Linked DNA regions of Homo sapiens: region 2 is linked to region 1. A link means that fine-mapping ties the variant in region 1 to the expression of a gene that starts in the linked region. Tissue or cell type: whole blood. Region 1 holds a variant in brackets; the other region holds the start of a gene. All regions are shown on one strand. Distances are between the middles of the regions.

The links. PIP is the estimated chance that this variant, and not a neighbour inherited with it, causes the effect.
Region 2: BTBD6 starts here. The variant in region 1 is fine-mapped to the expression of BTBD6 in whole blood (TOPMed, PIP 0.95).

Annotation. Positions count from the first base shown.
Region 1 is chr14:105,450,226-105,458,282 of GRCh38, reverse strand. It overlaps MTA1 (metastasis associated 1), which reads right to left. Exons shown (of 21, transcript NM_004689.4): 6 at 7,959-8,022; 7 at 3,973-4,090; 8 at 1-13. Among named protein-coding and RNA genes, the nearest start is that of CRIP2, 21 kb to the left of the region's middle. The variant G/A (reference allele first, on the strand shown) is at 3,092.
Region 2 is chr14:105,245,139-105,253,207 of GRCh38, reverse strand. BTBD6 (BTB domain containing 6) reads right to left here and starts at 4,675. Exons shown (of 4, transcript NM_001387567.1): 1 at 4,123-4,675; 2 at 3,961-4,051; 3 at 3,730-3,848; 4 at 2,115-3,568. The coding sequence starts at 4,496. The coding sequence ends at 2,536. BRF1 (BRF1 general transcription factor IIIB subunit) reads left to right here. Exons shown (of 18, transcript NM_001519.4): 5 at 629-701. RefSeq lists enhancers at 2,678-3,467, 4,259-5,049 and silencers at 4,074-4,123, 4,324-4,883.

The DNA of each region.
Region 1 (8,057 bases):
CCATCCTCCTCGCCTACAGGGAGGAAGTGTGGCCTTTCTGAGACGGGGTCCCACGGCGCGCCGGGCCGCGCCTCTCCTCCCCGGGTGCGGGGAGCTGCTGGGACGGGGAGGGGGAAGGGCTGCAGGGCCCCATAGGTGAGGCCAGGGTGCAAGGCTGGACGGAGGCTGTTGCACACACAGGCACACAGTGGCCTCTCAACCCGGGGCTGGGGTGCACACGCAAGGGGCCTCCCAGCCCACCCAGAATGCAGGGCTCCAAGAACTGTGGCCACAAGAGATGGGAAGGTTGGTTTGTAAATTTAAATCAAGCCTTTTTATTTATTTATTTATATTATTATTATTATTATTATTATTTTTTGAGACGGAGTCTCACTCTGTCGCCCAGGCTGGAATACAGTGGTACGATCTTGGCTCACTACAACCTCCGCCTCCCAGGTTCAAGCGATTCTCCTGCCTCAGCCTCCTGAGTAGCTGGGACCACAGGCACCGACACCATGCCCAGCTAATTTTTGTATTTTCAGTAGACACGGGGTTTCACCATGTTGCCCAGGCTGGTCTCGAACTCTTGACCTCAGGTGATCCATCCGCCTTAGCCTCCCAAAGTGTTGGGATCATAGGCGTGAGCCACCGTGCCCGGCCCAAGCTTTTTATTTTGAGATACTTGGGTTCACATGCTGTTGCAAGAGGGCCCTGCCACGTCACAGCAGCAGGCAGACCACCTCCAGGGACCTTCTGGGGGCACAGGCTCCCTCCTGGCCCCTCTTCCACCCCAGGGGGTTCTGGGGCAGCTGCGGCTAAGCCTGGCACAGCCAGAGCCGGGGGCCAGGGAGTGGGCGTGCCTCTGGAGTCACCAGTTGTTTCCTGTCTTCTGGGAGCTGGGACGATGGAGAACTCAAGGCTGGTGAAGAGGCCACCTGACGCCTGCAGTCGGCCAGGGCCAGGAGGGTTTCTGACGAAACAGCCTTTTACTCGCCAAAAAACAAGACCGTGGTGTTGGGAGACACCCTCAGGAGAATGTGTGTCTGAGCATGGCTGAGCCTGACTCCTGGGGGAGGACTTGGAGAAAGAGCTCCACAATTGTCCTCTGTCCACCTCTCAGCCGCCTCCATAGCTCAGTGCAGGGTGCCAGGCTCAGACTCTGCAAGCAGCTCCCCTCCAGCCCTGGGCAGCACCGAGGTTCCAGACCAAGGACCACGGAGTGCGGGGCTGCCCTCCACTGGGGCGCCCGGCTGCAGGTCCAGCATGGAGAGAGCTCTTGAGACTAGAAAGTCCCCAAGAAAATGCTATCCCTCGCTAAGGGGCACTGGCTCCCAGACCCTGCCCCAAGGGCCGGACATCCTGGGCCATGTGTCCAGGGAGGGTCAGGCCATGCGGCCTCTAGGAAACAATGCCTGGCCAGACTCAGAGGACGGGGTCAGCCAGGGACTGGGGCTGTGTGAACCAGCAAGGCGGGCTGGGGGGTCTTCAGCCTGGTGTGGACTCCTCACCTGGCTCAGGGGTACCCTGGGGAAGCTGGGGCCTAGCTCCCTGACGGCCAAGAAGCTGAGCCTTGGTGTGACCCACACAAGCCATGGTGCCTCCGTGTATGCGCACTGCTGGTCATGATGGTCGCACTCCCTTTGACATTTCAAACTCACTAAAGGCAGGTGCACAACTAGTGTGCAATTTTCCATCACTCAAGAGGGACACAGCCTCTCGGAGGTGGGGAAAGCTCTGGACGCCACGTCCCGGCCCCACACCAGCTGGTGGGATCCCTGGTCCTTGCACCAGCGGCCCAAAAGCCAAGGAACGGCAGGGCAGCGGGGAAGGCAGCGTGGGGAGAGGAGGCCGGCTCCTGCGGCTGGCTCGGCCTTGTGGACCCTTAGTCCCATCGCCCCAGACCCTGCAGAGCTCCGCCAGGTCTCTCCAGGTGTGCATGGTAAGATGGGGGCACCTCAAGGCCCATTCTCCTGACAGGCCCACTGGCCCCAGGCTGAAGGTACAGATGCGCCAGCTGAGGGCCTCTGACCTGAGACAGCTCCTCACTCTCTGGCCCTCATGTGATCTGTGTTCTCACCTGTCTCCCAGCCACGGACTCTGCCTTTCCACCTGGGTGCGGCTGCCAGGCCTTCACCTTTGGCCAGGCCAGAAAGGCAAGACAGCCCCAGGCTGGGAGACCCTGGCATGATAGCAGGGCACCCTGGAGGCCACAGGCCCAGACCCAGCACAGCGGCCTCCCCATGCTCAGACCCACAGGCCGGGCCCCAGCACAGTGGCCTCTCCACACTCAGACCCACAGGCCTCAGCACAGCGGCCTCTCCACACTCAGACCCACAGGCCTCAGCACAGTGACTTCCCCACACTTAGACCCACAGGCCGGGCTCCAGCACAGCGGCCTCCCCAGGCTCCGACCCACAGGCCTCAGCACAGAGGCCTCCTCCCCAGGCCCAGCCCTCAATGTGCCCTGTCTGCCTGGAGAGATGTGGGGGTCTTCCCCCACTGCCAAGCACCTCCCAGAGCACAGATGCTTGCAATGTAGCAGGCCCACGAGCCCAATGCTGGAGCCCACAGCTGCCTGGAGGAGGTGGCACACCCAGCCACCTGTGAGACGCACCAGCACCTTACGGACAATCAAGAAGAACACGAAACAGCACCAGCTACTCGGGAGGCTGAGGCTTGAGGATCGCTGGGGCCTAGGACTTCAAGTCCAGCCTGGGCGACACAGCAAGACCCGCTCTCAAAACAAACCAAAACAGGACAAGCACGAAACGCCTTGATCACAACTGCAAGCAGGGAGGCGAGTCCCCGCCCACCCTCGGGGGCAGAGCCCTGCGTCTCGAGGGCAGCCTCGCGGCCTTGCCCAGCGGGGAGATGAGGGACAGGGCTGAGAAGGGGACAGTGAGCCCCAGGACCTCCCACCAGGGCTACCGAAGCACCCGGTGGAGGGAGGAGGCTGCCAGCATCCGGGGTGAGCACTGCGTCGGAGCTCCACGGCCCCAGCAGGCCTCAAGGGTGGGGCACCCACAGGCAAGACAAGAAACGTGGGCAGATTCACACAGAAGAAAATTTCTGGAGGCAAAAAGAACTTTAAAAAATGAGGCCAGGTGCAGTG[G/A]CTCACACATGTAATCCCAGCAGTTTGGGAGGTCGAAGCAGGTAGATCACTTGAGTTCAGGGGTTTGAGACCAACCTGGGCAACATGGCGAAACCCTGTCTCTAATAAAAATACAAAAAAACTAGGGGGGTGTGGTGGTGCCCCTGTAGTTCCAGCTACTGAGGAGGCTGAGGTGGGAGGATCATCTGAGCCTGGGAGGTCGAGGCTGCAGTGAGCTGTGATTGCACCACTGCATTCCAGCCTGGGCGACAGAGCCAGACCTTGTCCAAAAAAAAGAAAAAGTAATGAAAAATAACTGCCAAGGCCAGACTCGGTGGCTCACGCCTGTAATCCCAGCACCTTGGGAGGCCTGAGGTCAAGAGTTCAAGACCAACGTGGCCAACACGGTGAAACCCCGTCTCTACTAAAAATAAAAAAATTAGCCGGGCGTGATGGCGGGCGCCTGTAATCCCAGCTACTCGGGAGGCTGAGGCAGGAGAATCGCTTGAACCTGGGAGGCGGAGGTTGCAGTGAGCCGAGATCACCCCACTGCACTCCAGCCTGGGCAACAGAGCGAGACTCCGTCTGAAAAAAAAGAAAAAGAAAAACAACTGCCAGAAGGAAACCAGGTGTCACTGTGCAAGGACAGCTGATCACCACGTCCTGCCTGAGGGTCTGAGGCTTCCCCAGAACCCCAACACCACCAGGAGTGGGTGGGGGAAGGCTCCGGGACACCAGCCTACACGCATCACCCATGTGGACAGAGCCCAGGCCTACACCTGCCGCCCCCAGTCACACATGAATCACTGACACGGCCATGTCCCAGCCTCCTCTCACCCAGTGTGTCACCCGGCAGGACAGGACAGGACAGAGGGCTCCATGCCCAGGGCGGCCCACCCTACCTTCTTTTAACAAGTCGGTGATGTCTGCCTGGTACCGGTTTCCTACTCGAATCTCTCCTTTATCTGCCAGCAGGGTCTTCTGCTGTGGGTCGTAGACTAGAGAATAGAAGAAGAAATCCTGGAAAACACCACAGGAGACAGAGAGGCGTCAGCACAGTCAGGCTGCTGGGAGGGTCAGAGAGGCGTCAGCACGGCCGGGCTGCTGGGAGGGTCTTGCCCAGAGCTCTTGTGGGGCGACATGGGCGCAGGAGGGAGGGAGGGCGCAGGAGCCCCCACAGCTCCCGGCCATGCCTGGGAGGAGCCTACAGCGGGGCCTCGAGGGTCACTGGGGGATGCACCTGCCCCATGACACTGCACGGAGGAGACATGCCGAGGGTCAGCAGAGGCAGGGCCAATGAGCAGCTGCAGGGGTGGGGCCAGGCTCCACAAGCCTTTACCAAGGCAGGGTGGATACGGCTACAGCCCAAAAACCATGACTTATTTGCCTTTTTATTTTTTTGAGGCAGAGTTTCGCTCTTGTCGCCCAGGTTGGAGTGCAATGGCGTGATCTCGGCTCACTGCAACCTCCGTTTCCCGGGTTCAAGCAATTCTCCTGCCTCAGCCTTCCAAGTAGCTGGGATTACAGGTGCCCACCACCACACCTAGCTAATATTTTGTATTTTCAGTAGAGACAGAGTTTCACCATGTTGGCCAGGCTGTTCTCAAACTCCTGAGCTCAGGTGATCCACCCGCCTCGGCCTCCCAAAGTGCTGGAATTACTGGCGTCAGCCACTGCGCCCAGCAGACTTATTTTCCTTTTTCGAAACATGGTCTCGCTCCGTCGCCCAGGCTGGAGTGCAGCAGTGCAATCACAGCTCACTGTGGCCTCCGCCTCCTGGGTTCAAGTGATCCTCCCACCTCAGCCTCCAAGTAGTTGAGACTACAGGCGTGTGCTATGCCCGGCTACAAAGCCATCCCTATCAGCAGCAGCAATGTGAAGATGTAACTTATCCAAGGTGTTTAAGAGCAACAGAAATCAGGAGTTCTGGGCACAACCTTGGAGGAGCGGCCACCGCTGGAGCGCTACGGAGCATTCCAGGCTCAGCACCGCCGGCCGCCACCCGCGCAGCAGGCGCGGCCCTTCCCGCCAGCATTCCATCTCAGGCAACCTCACACCAGGGCCCCCAGGCTGCCTCTGGGATGGCATTTCCAGGACATGGCCTTTGCCAACCTTTTGCTGTCCGGCATTGTGTGTCCTGCACTGGGCTGGTTCTGATGATTTTTGAAGCAGGCCTGTCCGGGCCTGACCCTGGAGTCCCAGCCTGAGCACCTGGCCTCAGCCAGGGCTGCACTTTCTTCTGCATGTGTGCCTGGCGTCCAATCACCCTCCCGTTTCCAGGTCATCCTCCTGATTCCTGTGGGTCGTCTTTTCCAGCCCTTACCCGCTTTCCCTGTCTCTCCTATTCTGAAAGCTACTCTGCGTGTTTTCTTTCAAGAGCTACCTTTAAAGTCCAGCATGACACCTGCTCCATGTGTGACCACGAGCCATGCTTCAGGGCCTTCGTCCTCTTGAACTGACACGACTATCCAGAGGCCAGCTGCCAGCCTCAGCCTCAGCTCCTACTCTGCCTGGATCTTTTATTTTTTTTGGAGATAGGGTCTTGCTCTATCACCCAAGATAGAGTACAGTGGTGCGATCTTGCTTCAGTGAAGCCTCCGCCTCTTGACTCAAGCAATCCTCCCACCTCAGCCTCCTGAGTAGCTGGGACAACAGTAAGTGTGCACCACCACGCCTGGCTAATGTTTTTTACTTTTGTAGAGGTGAGGTCTCACTATGATGCCCAGGCTGCTCTTGAACTCCTGAGCTCAAGTGATTCCCCCGGCCTTGGCCTCCCAAAGTGCTGGGATTACAGGCATGAGCCACTGTACCCGGCCTGTTTCTTTAAATTAATAAACACAAGTGGTTTCTATTTGGTGCCGGACTGCGCCACTGGTCAGGGCCTGGGTGTGTCTGTGACTGCTGTGTGCTGTTTCTGCACTCTTGCTTATCTGTGACATGAGCCTGTGTTTATCAGGACTTCATCAGTGAGGGTTATTTGAGGCGAGGCAGGGGCACGATCGCCCAGGGGCCAGTGGCACAAGCTTCTGCCAGGTGCTAAGTGTACTCACCCTGAGCCTGTTACATTAAATTCCCATATTGGGGCTGTTCAGAAACCCCAGGTAAGAAAGAAGAGGGAAGTGGCTGGGCGCAGTGGCTCATGCCTGTAATCCCAACAGTTCGGGAGGCAGAGGCGGGATGATCACCTGAGGTCAGGAGTTTGAGACCAGCCCGGCTAACATGGTGAAACCCCATTTCTACTAAAAATACAAAAAATTAGCCGGACATGGTGACACACGTCTGTAATCCCAGCTACTCGGGAGGCTGAGACAGGAGAATCGCTTGAACCCGGGAGGCGGAGGTTGCAGTGAGCTGAGATCGCGCCACTGTACTCCAGCCTGGGCAACAAGAGCGAAACTCTGTCTCAAAAAAAAAAAAAAAAAAAAAAAACAAAAAAAGAAAAAGAAAAAGGGGGGAAGGGCTGCATCGTGCAGCAGGAGGGTTTCAGGGTGCCTGAGCAGCCTGTTTTGTCCCCGGCAAGCATGGACCCGGCCGTTTCTGGGCGGACACAGTGCAGACAGGCTTGTCACTGCACCTGCTGCTTCCTCACGGGCCTTTTTTGCTAACAAACATTTTCTGTGCCCACAGATACATTTCTGCAGTCTCACCCTCTCTGTGTGGCTCTGTCAATAAGGGCACTCCTCATTCCTGAGTGGAAGCCTTCACAGCGACCCCCACAGCCTCTGCTCCCGCCCAGCATGTTGTGGCTCAGCCTTCTGGGAAGCTGGTCTGGCAGCCTGAGAGGGTTCGAGCCCTGCCCATGCTCCACGCATGTGTTACGACCCCAGGCCAAGCCCTGCCTGCTCTTCTCTGCCTGCTCATGACTCTGAGCTAAGGCACGACCACAGCCCTAGCTGAGCCACTGTCGCCCTTCACGCCTGTTTCCAGGCTGTGTGGTGGGAATGGGGACCGGGGCCACAGAGGTAGTGCAGGGCTGAGCTTGGGACACACCGTGGCCATCCTGGATCCTTCAGAGCCCATGCCAGAGCGCCGATGGCCACGACAGAGATGAGCCCCCCTGGGATGGGCAGGGTGGGGGCCGCATCCAGCAACCTGCATCTGAGCTGACTGGACACGCTGGGGGTGTTCAGGTCACAAGACTCCAGCCAGGTGGCAGCAGAGCCCGTGGGAGGCCAAGCCCTAGGCCTGGAGATGCGCCTGCCCCTTGGCAGGTGTGCCCCGCAACTGTGACAGGCACTCCAGGGAACCAACACACTCCAGACGCTTTTGCCCCCACGTGGCCTCAGAAAACCCAACCCTCCCGTTCGCTGGATCTCACAGCAGCCTCAGTGCCACCGCTCTCCGTCAGGCGACACTGCTCCCCAGGGATGTATGGCATTGTCGGGACACATTTTTTGGTTGTCACGCCTTGGGGGATGCTATACGGCAGGTTAACACCGTATAATCACAGGTGACCCCCAGATAAGAATCACCTGGTAACACCGTATAATCACAGTGACCCCCAAGGTGGGCCTACCAGGACTCTGCCCACCGCCCAGGAGAGACCAGCCAAGACTCCTGCGAAGACTCAGGTGGCCCCTGCCCCCACCTGCCTCAGCCACACCCTCCCCAGGGGGACCTCCCCTCGCTGGCTGTCTGGGTGGCAGTGGCAAGAGGAAAGAGCTCCAAGCTCCTGGCCCACAACTCTGGACGCGTAGGGTGGGGGCGGCCACACACCAGGACACCTGGAAGTGACAGTCAGGACGCAATCCCCGCTTCCCCCCAGAACAGCCTGGGCCTAGAGGGAGGAGGGAAAATCGTCTCCGCCGCCCAGGCCAGCAGAGGTCATAGGTAGAGGAAACAGTGGCCCGGGACTGGCTGCGGCAGACCAGGCCGGGCTGGGCCTCACCTCCCGCTCCAGGTAGGACTTGAGCGACTCGGTCTCGTTGAGCAGGGTGACGCTGCACTTGCCCCTGGAAGAGAAGGACGGGCAGGCTGGAAAGGCGAG
Region 2 (8,069 bases), 210 kb after region 1:
AGGCTAGAGTCCTTGTTTTGCTGAGGACAAGCAGCGGTGCTCCCATCACTGCCAGCCCTCGGCGTTGCCCTTCTCGGTCTGGGCCTCACCTCCACTGCCCTATGGCAGATAGCCGAGGCAGGGGTGACAGGATCTGTGTGGATTTGGACCTAAGGTAGGAACAGTGTGGGGGGCAGGGGAGTCACTGAGGAACACAGATCTCAGTCCCAGCAAGGGGGCTGAGGCCAAGACCCCTGGGCCCATCGGAATCTGGGCTGGAGGTGTGGCTGGTGGGAGCACATGTGGACAGAACTGGTTTTGTGTTCATGGGTGTGCAGTTGTGAATGAAATGCTGCGTGCACCGTGTGATGACGCCCTGGGAGGAACCTTGCAGTCAGGTTTTCTTCTAAGCAGATGCCATCATTGGCGAGACGGCAGCACGGCCTAAAGCAGCGGCTTAGAGGAAGAAGGCAGGGCCCTGGGAGCCCCAGCAGCCAAGGGAGGCCAGCCAGGCTTGCGGGTGTGGGGTGGCTGCTCCACGGGCCATCGGAGTCTTTAAAGACTGCACAAGAGATGCATTTTAAGAGAAAAAAAGCAAACATTTCCTTAAATACCAATGCTGTTTCTGGTTGTGATCTCTCCATCTCAGGTGAATGTGTACGTGCTTGGAAAGACGTTTCTTCTCTTGGCAAGAGAGCTCTGCATCAATGCGCCGGCCATAGGTAGGCATCTGGGTGAGATGCTGGGGTGTCCGGCAGGCTGCTGTAGGGACCAGCGTGCCAAATGTCCTTTGAACAGTGGAGGGAAATCCTGTCCAAGCATGGGACCCCTCAAGGTAAGAAATGTTTCTTAAAGCTGCTAGGAGCTCAGTAATGTGGGGCCTTATTTTCTAAGACACAGTCTCGCTGTTGTCCAGGCTGGAGTGCAGTGGCACAATCGTAGCTCACTGCAGCCTCAAACTCCTGGCCTCAAGTGATCCTCGTGCCTTCGCCTCCCAAAGCACTGGGATTACAGGCATGAGACCGCACCTGGCCTGGGGCTTGCTTTCTGCTGCAAAACCAGAAGGCCTGTTGTCAGTGCCTGTCAGGTGGCAGGAAGGTGTAGACAGGGAAACAAGTGCTGCGTGCTGGGAGCATCTTGTGTGGACAAGGTTTAAGGGACACACCTGGCTCCAGGTGCCTCTGGACAGATGGGGACAGTGGGGCAGCTCCTGGTTGTGCTTTCCAGCCACAGCCCTCTTTTGTGGTTTTTCTGCCACTTTTGTTCTGTGTTGTGTGCGAGTTTGTGGAACTCCTGTATGCCTTTCTTGATGTGTGTTAGGTGTAGGGTAAGTCCTGTCTCTCCCTCGAGGCAGCAGCAGTGTTCATGCATGCAGAATCTAACCTAGCGGAAAAGTCTAGAAGGAAAGGATCAAAACAGCACTCACTGCCCGATGGTTCTGACCTACCCTTTCTTTACCAAGCAGATGACTGGTTTCCATGGCCCGCTTAGAGGCCCCTTTCTTACTTTGCCTGTTTGCATCTAGGAGCGTATGTCCTTTGGGTAGAGAAGCACCAGGTGGGGCTGGGTCACCAACAGGACTGAGCAACACGGGCTGCAGCAGCAGAGGGGCACCGGCTGAGGCTATACACTCGGCCCATGCCCTCTCCCAGGTGCCAAGAGGGGCCATCCCTCTTTTCGGGGGTCATACAGGTTTTCCAGAAAACAACTGCCTACAGGGTATGCAGAGTGGGAGGAGAGAGACAAGGGGTGGGAGAGCCTGTTTCACCCTATAGTCCACTCCTGCAACAGGCTGTCCCGCAGCAGTGTCACAGCTAGTGACAGTCCCCAGGGTCCAGAACGCTGGGCCCAGCAGAATGCTCCCCCGACAGTCTGTTCATAGGGTAGGACTCTGAGGTGCTAGTGATGCATTAGGACATAGAGACAACCAGGCACCTGGTGTTTCCTAGGGTGGCCCAGAAGCCAGCCAGCAACCCAGGGGACAGATGGGCTTCACTGGGGCGCAGTTTGCTCCTAACCACATAGCATGTTCAGCATGACAGGTTTTCTCCTCGGGATGGGAGGGAGCTGTTCTGTTGCATGAGAAAGAGAATACCCCACTGTACAACTGCTGTAGTCATTTACTGACACGTGGGTGTTATTTTAGGCAACCTTTATTACAGAAGTCCACTATTTTAAGTGACTTTTTGCCAATTTTAGATTTGAAGGGAAGGTCTCAAGTTAAGCTTGGAACCACTTAGAATCCAAGAGGGTAGCAGGAAGATCCAACCCCTCAAAGCAGGTGGCATGGGTGCCACTGGGAGGGGATCTGGGGCCTGTCTTGAGCCGTAAATCTTCCTCCACCTGAGACGTGCACCCCACTGTACCAGAGATGCCTAAGACTCCAATCCCTGGGTTCTGGCTGTGTGGAAAATGTCTCTACACAGTCAAGCTTCAGCTGACTACATGTCAAAGAGAGACAAAGTTAAGAGCAGCCTTTCATGGTGTCAAGAAGCAGTTAGCATCTTGACTTCCCCTCCACTCACTCGCTGACCTGCTGCAGCCTCCCCGGGCACCTCAGGCATAGAAAATGAGCTCAGGGATCTGCCCACCCTGGACCCCAGTCCCGTTGGTGCTGTCCGAGGAGCACTGGAACTGGAAGGCCACCTTTCCACACTGCACTTCCGTCATCCCCTCCTGCCCAAAGTAGCTGAGTTCGCTGCCGTCCAGGACGGCACTGGCCGTGTAGAAGGTGTCTTGTTCAACCTGGACCGGGTGTTCAAACCAGACCGGGAAGGTGTTACTGGATCCGTCTGACATGAACTTGGTCAAGTTCTGAGCCAGAACCACCCCGAGCCGCTTGAGCTCAATCTTCACGCTGTACTCAGCCTTCCCAGAGCTGGAGCCATACAGGCCCAGCCCTGCAATAAATACCCTTCTGTCCACTGCAAACTGGATGCTGTCGCAGCGCCCGCGGTACCGCCACTGGTTGCTGCGGTAGGCAGAAGACTGGAATCGGTGGCACCTCTGCGGGGCGAGGCCCTTCCTCTTGGTCAGGGGAAAGTCCAGGCGGGGCTTGTTGGTGGCCGTGTACCACAGGAAGATGCTGTGGGTCTCCTCCAGAGTCAGGATGTCTGACTGGGCAGCGCCGTTGGCAAACTCCTCTAGGGTCATGGTTGGAATTCGGACCAGATAGAGGGCTCGCCCCAGAACATGCCTCTTGTTTCGTGGGGTGATTGGCAGCCCCTGCCTCTTGCACTCCGCCTCGGCCCAGTTCAGGACGGCCTCGAAGACCACCGCCTCTTTGGTGTTGAGGGCCTCCCGAGTGACAATGATCTCCAGCGTCTGCCGGTCTATCTCACAGAAGCCTTCGGACCGTAGGGCCATCTCGGCCTGTGCGTCAATGACCTCCCAGCAGCGCTGCGTCAGCTCGGGCTCCTCAAACAGCCGGCTCTGGGACAGCAGGACGCAGGCGTTCTTGGCTTCCAAACTTGTCTCCAGAAAGTTGACACAGGCTTTTGCCAATGCTGGGACGATGTACTTCTTAGCAGCGTACAGAGTGGCCAGCACCGTGTCGGCTTCCAGATCGATCTCATCACTGTACATGTACCTAGGCGAGGCAGGGCCCGCGTCAGGGGCTGGCTCCCAAGCACCCATCGCGGGGCTGGGCCTGGGAGAGGAGTCCATCAGCTCCTGTGTGCTTCCCTTCAGAAGCCTCCGGAGGCCGCCTAAAACGGACCCACCCGTCCCTCCCCAGTAGAGTGGACTTACTTTAAGAGGATCAGAAAGGCTGCGGGCTCCACGTCTGGAATGTGAATTTCAGATTTGACTTCCGCCAGGTCTCCGTAGAACATGGCATAGAAGACGGAGCTGCCGACAGCCAAGACGTACTGGGAGGAGAAAGCGCCGCCGTGAGCCTGGCTCTCCCGCAGGCTGCGTGTCAGCCACACGGCGGACGGGGCGGACGGGGCACGCGTTCCGAGAGGGGCCGCCGCTACCCACCTTGTGGGCGGGCACCGTCCTGGTCGCCCCCGGGGGCCCCACGACGAAGTGCACGTCGGCCATGAGCTCGTTGTTGAACATGAGCGCGTTCCTGCAAAGGTAGAGGCACGGGCTGGGGGCGTGGGCGCGCGCGGGCGCGGGGGCCGCGGGGCACGGGCTCACCTCTCGCGCAGCGTGGGGCGGCAGCACCGCCAGCCGGGGCTCTCCTGGTGGTTGTTGCCGAGTGTGGGCGGCGCGGGCGCGGGCGGCGGCGGCGCTGGCGCGGGGGCGCTGGGCGGGCTGCGCGGCCCGGCCTTCCTGCCCACGGCGGCGCCGGCGTTGCTGTTGGCTAGGTCCGCGGCCGCGGCGCTGGCGGGAGCGTAGAGTTCCGCCGCCATCTTCGCGGGCGGGGCGGCGGGGGCAGCCTCGGCGCCTGTGGACGCCGCGCCCCGCGCCCTCGCGCCGCGCCGGGGCCTCGGGAGCGGCTCTGCAAGCAAAAGCAAGGAGGTCAGGCACTGAGCGACGCGGCCGTGCAGGCAGGCTAGGGGCAGCAGCATGGGCGGCGGCGGCGCTGTGACCCGCGGGGCTGCCACCCGCTCCCCTGCCACCCCCGCCCCTGCGACCCTGCCCGAGCCCAGCCTAGCGCAGCCCGGCCAGGCCCGGCCGCGGGGGGCGCCGTCCCGCCCGCCCGCCCGCCCGAGCCCGTACCCGCCGCGGCGCCGGTGCGTCACGCTGCGTCAGGGCCGCGCCCCGCGCGACGTCGCTGCCTCGCGGCCCCGCCCCCAGGCCCGACATCCTCGAAGCTGCTCGAGCTTCTGCCCAGCAACCGGCGCGAGCCGCGCGCTGTGCAGAGGTAGCCGTGGAAGGCGGCTCCCGGCGCTGGCAGGCGGCCGCCCCCAGACCCGCAGTGCCATGCGCAGGTGCTTGCGCCCGTTCTTCAGTTAGCGATCTTTTGGTTAGGAACGCAGGTGGACCTGCTTGTTTGGCCATTTGCATTCCGGAGTCTGCCTCTGGCCGCGGCCTGTGGGATGGTCGTTGGGCTTCCTCGTTCGTTCAGATGCTTCGCGATTTAGCTTGCTACGGACGCCAGCAGCCAGCGCTTGCAGAGAGCGCGGTCCACTCTGCTCTGAGGGCTTTACAGGGGCAGGCGCTGCTATTTCCCGGCATTTTCCTCGAGGAAATAGGCACAGAGAGGTTAGTCGCGCGCTGAAGGTCACACAGCCGGCGGGTGGGCAAGTCAGGATCTGGCCCTGGGCCTGCAGCCCTGGAGCTTGGGCCCCAGGGCGCGCCCTGCCTCTGTGGCTCTGCCTGTGGATCGCAGTCGCAGGCTCGCTCCTTGTGGGGCCTCTAGCCTCCCGGCCTGGGGCTAATCCTGGGAGGTGCGTGGCATGGGGCACTGGCTTTGCTGATGAGGAGACCAGACTTCAGAGGCCGTGTCACCTGGCCTGGGCCGCACAGCTGGTGCATGCCAAGCTCGCGTGCAGACGAAGCTCCAGAGGCCTGGCTGTCAGGAGGGTTCCTCCCCGAGGACACACACGCAACCTCCTGGACCGCCAGGCTTTAGACTTTTAAAACTTCCATATGCAGGAAACCCCACAGGACGCAGCCAGCATCTCGGGTCATGGGTGCACCTGTCACCGCAGTCCTGGGCTAAACAGTGAACAGGAGCTCTGTGTCTCTGTGGTCGTTACAGTTGTAGTGAATGTTCCCTGGGAGAGTCCTCTTCAGAAGATATTTGCGGTATTTTCAACAAAGGACTCTCCAGGATGGAGGAGCAACTACAAGTCAGGAAGGAAAAGGCTGACAACCCAGTTTTTTAAAAAACGGGCAAAGGACGTGAACAGACACCATGCAATGGCCCAGAGTGCACAAATCATCATTTCTCCCAGGAATGGGGTGCCCGAGCCCCCAGGCGGCTGAACTTGAGACTTGTCACGTAGTGTTGGTGGAATGCAGAGCAGCTGGAGATCACCTGCTGCAGGTGGGTGCGTAACTCCGCACGGCCAAGCCGTTTGGAAAGCTGTAGCATATGCATGAGAGTCCGGAAAGTTCCGAGAGAAAGTGTGTGGATGCACCCGCCAAGGACACACCCACCGAGGCCACAGCTGCGATTTCATAGTGTGGGACCCCACTGGCAAAGACACGCTGGCTGCTGTGGCCGTGGTTTCTGTCCCAGCCGTCTGTTTCCATAGAAAAAGGTAACGGGCATAAGCAGTTTCCAGGAGAAATACAAATGGCCAGAGTGGAGACAGCCTACATGTCCATCAGCAACAGAAAGGATCAGCAGGTTGTGGTGGGTCCATTTGGGGAATGCAGTGAGAAGGAATAACTTACAGCAGCACACAAGACCTGGGCGACAGCTGTCTCCGGGGGTGCCAGGATAGAATTGCTGAGCCGCCAGAGGTAGTCAGCGTCTTGATCTGCATGGTGGTGTGGAGCATGTGAATAATAATTTTCATCCTTAGAAAGAAACCACCCTTTGCACTTTGATTTTTAAATATGTTACAGTGTAGGTTGGGCGCGGTGGCTCACGCCTGTAATCCCAGCACTTTGGGAGGCCAAGGTGGGCGGATCACTTGAGGTCAGGAGTTTGAGACCAGCCTGGCCAACATGGTGAAACCCCATCTCTACTAAAAATACAAAAATTAACGGGCACCTGTAATCCCAGCTATTCGGGAGGCCAAGGAAGGAGAATGGCTCGAACCAGGGAGGCGGAGGTTGCAGTGAGCTGAGATCATGCTACTGCACTCCAGCCTGGATGACAGAGCGAGACTCCGTTGACCAGGCTGGTCTTAAACTCCTGGCCTCAAGTGATCTACCTGCCTAGGCCTCCCAAAGTGCTGGGATTACAGGTGTGAGCCACCGCGCCCAGCCTATTCTTTTTTGTTTGTGATAATGGTCATCCTAATGGACATGAGGTAGTGTCATGTGGTTTTGATTTGCATGTCCCTGATAAATAATGATGTTGACCATCTACTCATGTGCTTGTTGGCTATTTGCATGGCGTGTTTGGAGAAACGTCTGTTCAAGGGCTTTGCCTTTTTTTTTTGAGACAGAGTCTTACTCCGTTGCCCAGGCTGGAGTGCGGTGGTGAGGGTGCACTGCAACATCCGCCTTCCAGGTTCAAGCGATTCTTGTGCCTCAGCCTCCCAAAGAGCTGGGATTACAAAAGTGCAGTTTGCCCATTTTTAATCGATTTTGTTCCTGAGTTGGAGTTTTTTGTATATTCAGGCTGTTAACCCCTTATGAGATAGATGGTTTGCACATAGTCTCTTCCATTCTATAGGATATCATTTCTGTTAATAGATTCCTTTGCTGTGCAGAAACTTTTTAGTTTGAGGTCATCCCATTTGTCTATTTTTACTTTCGTTGCCCTTGCTGTTGGTGTCATGTTCAAGAAATCATTGCCAAGACCAATGTCGTGAAGTCTTTCCCTTTGTTTTCTTCTAAGGGTTTTACAGTTTCAAGTCTGTGTTTGGGTCTTGCATCGGTTTTGAGTTAGTTTTTGTGTATGATGTAAGGTAAGGGTCTATCTTTATTTGCAAGTGGATATCCAGTTTTCCCAGCGCTGCATATTGAAGAGACCATCCTTTCCCCATTGTGCAAGAAGTTCTTGTCACCCTTGTTGAAGGTCATCTGTCTGTCATTGTCATTTCTGGCCCTGTGCTGTCCTGTCCTGTCCTGTCCTGTCCTGTTCTGTTCTGTTGGTCTGTAGGTCTGTCTTTATGTCAGCACCATACTGGCTGTTGGACTTTTTAATTCTTTTCTTGACAGTGGTAATTTATTTGCTTCTTTTTCTTATTAGTCCCTTTGCCTACTTTAAATAATTAATTTTGTTAATTTTTAGTTTTCTGTTATTTTAGTTCATTAATTTCATTGCTTCCTTTATTTATTTATTTATTTTTTTTGAGATGGAGTCTTGCTCTGTCACTCAGGCTGGAGTGCAGTGGCACGATCTCAGCTCACTGCAACCTCCACCTCCCAGGTTCAAGTGATTCTCCTGTCTCAGTCTCCTGAGTAGCTGGGATTACAGGCACTTGCCACCATGCCCGGCTAATTTTTTGTATTTTTTAGTAGAGACGGGGTTTCGCTGTGTTGCCCGGGCTGGTTTCAAACTTCTGAGCTCAGGC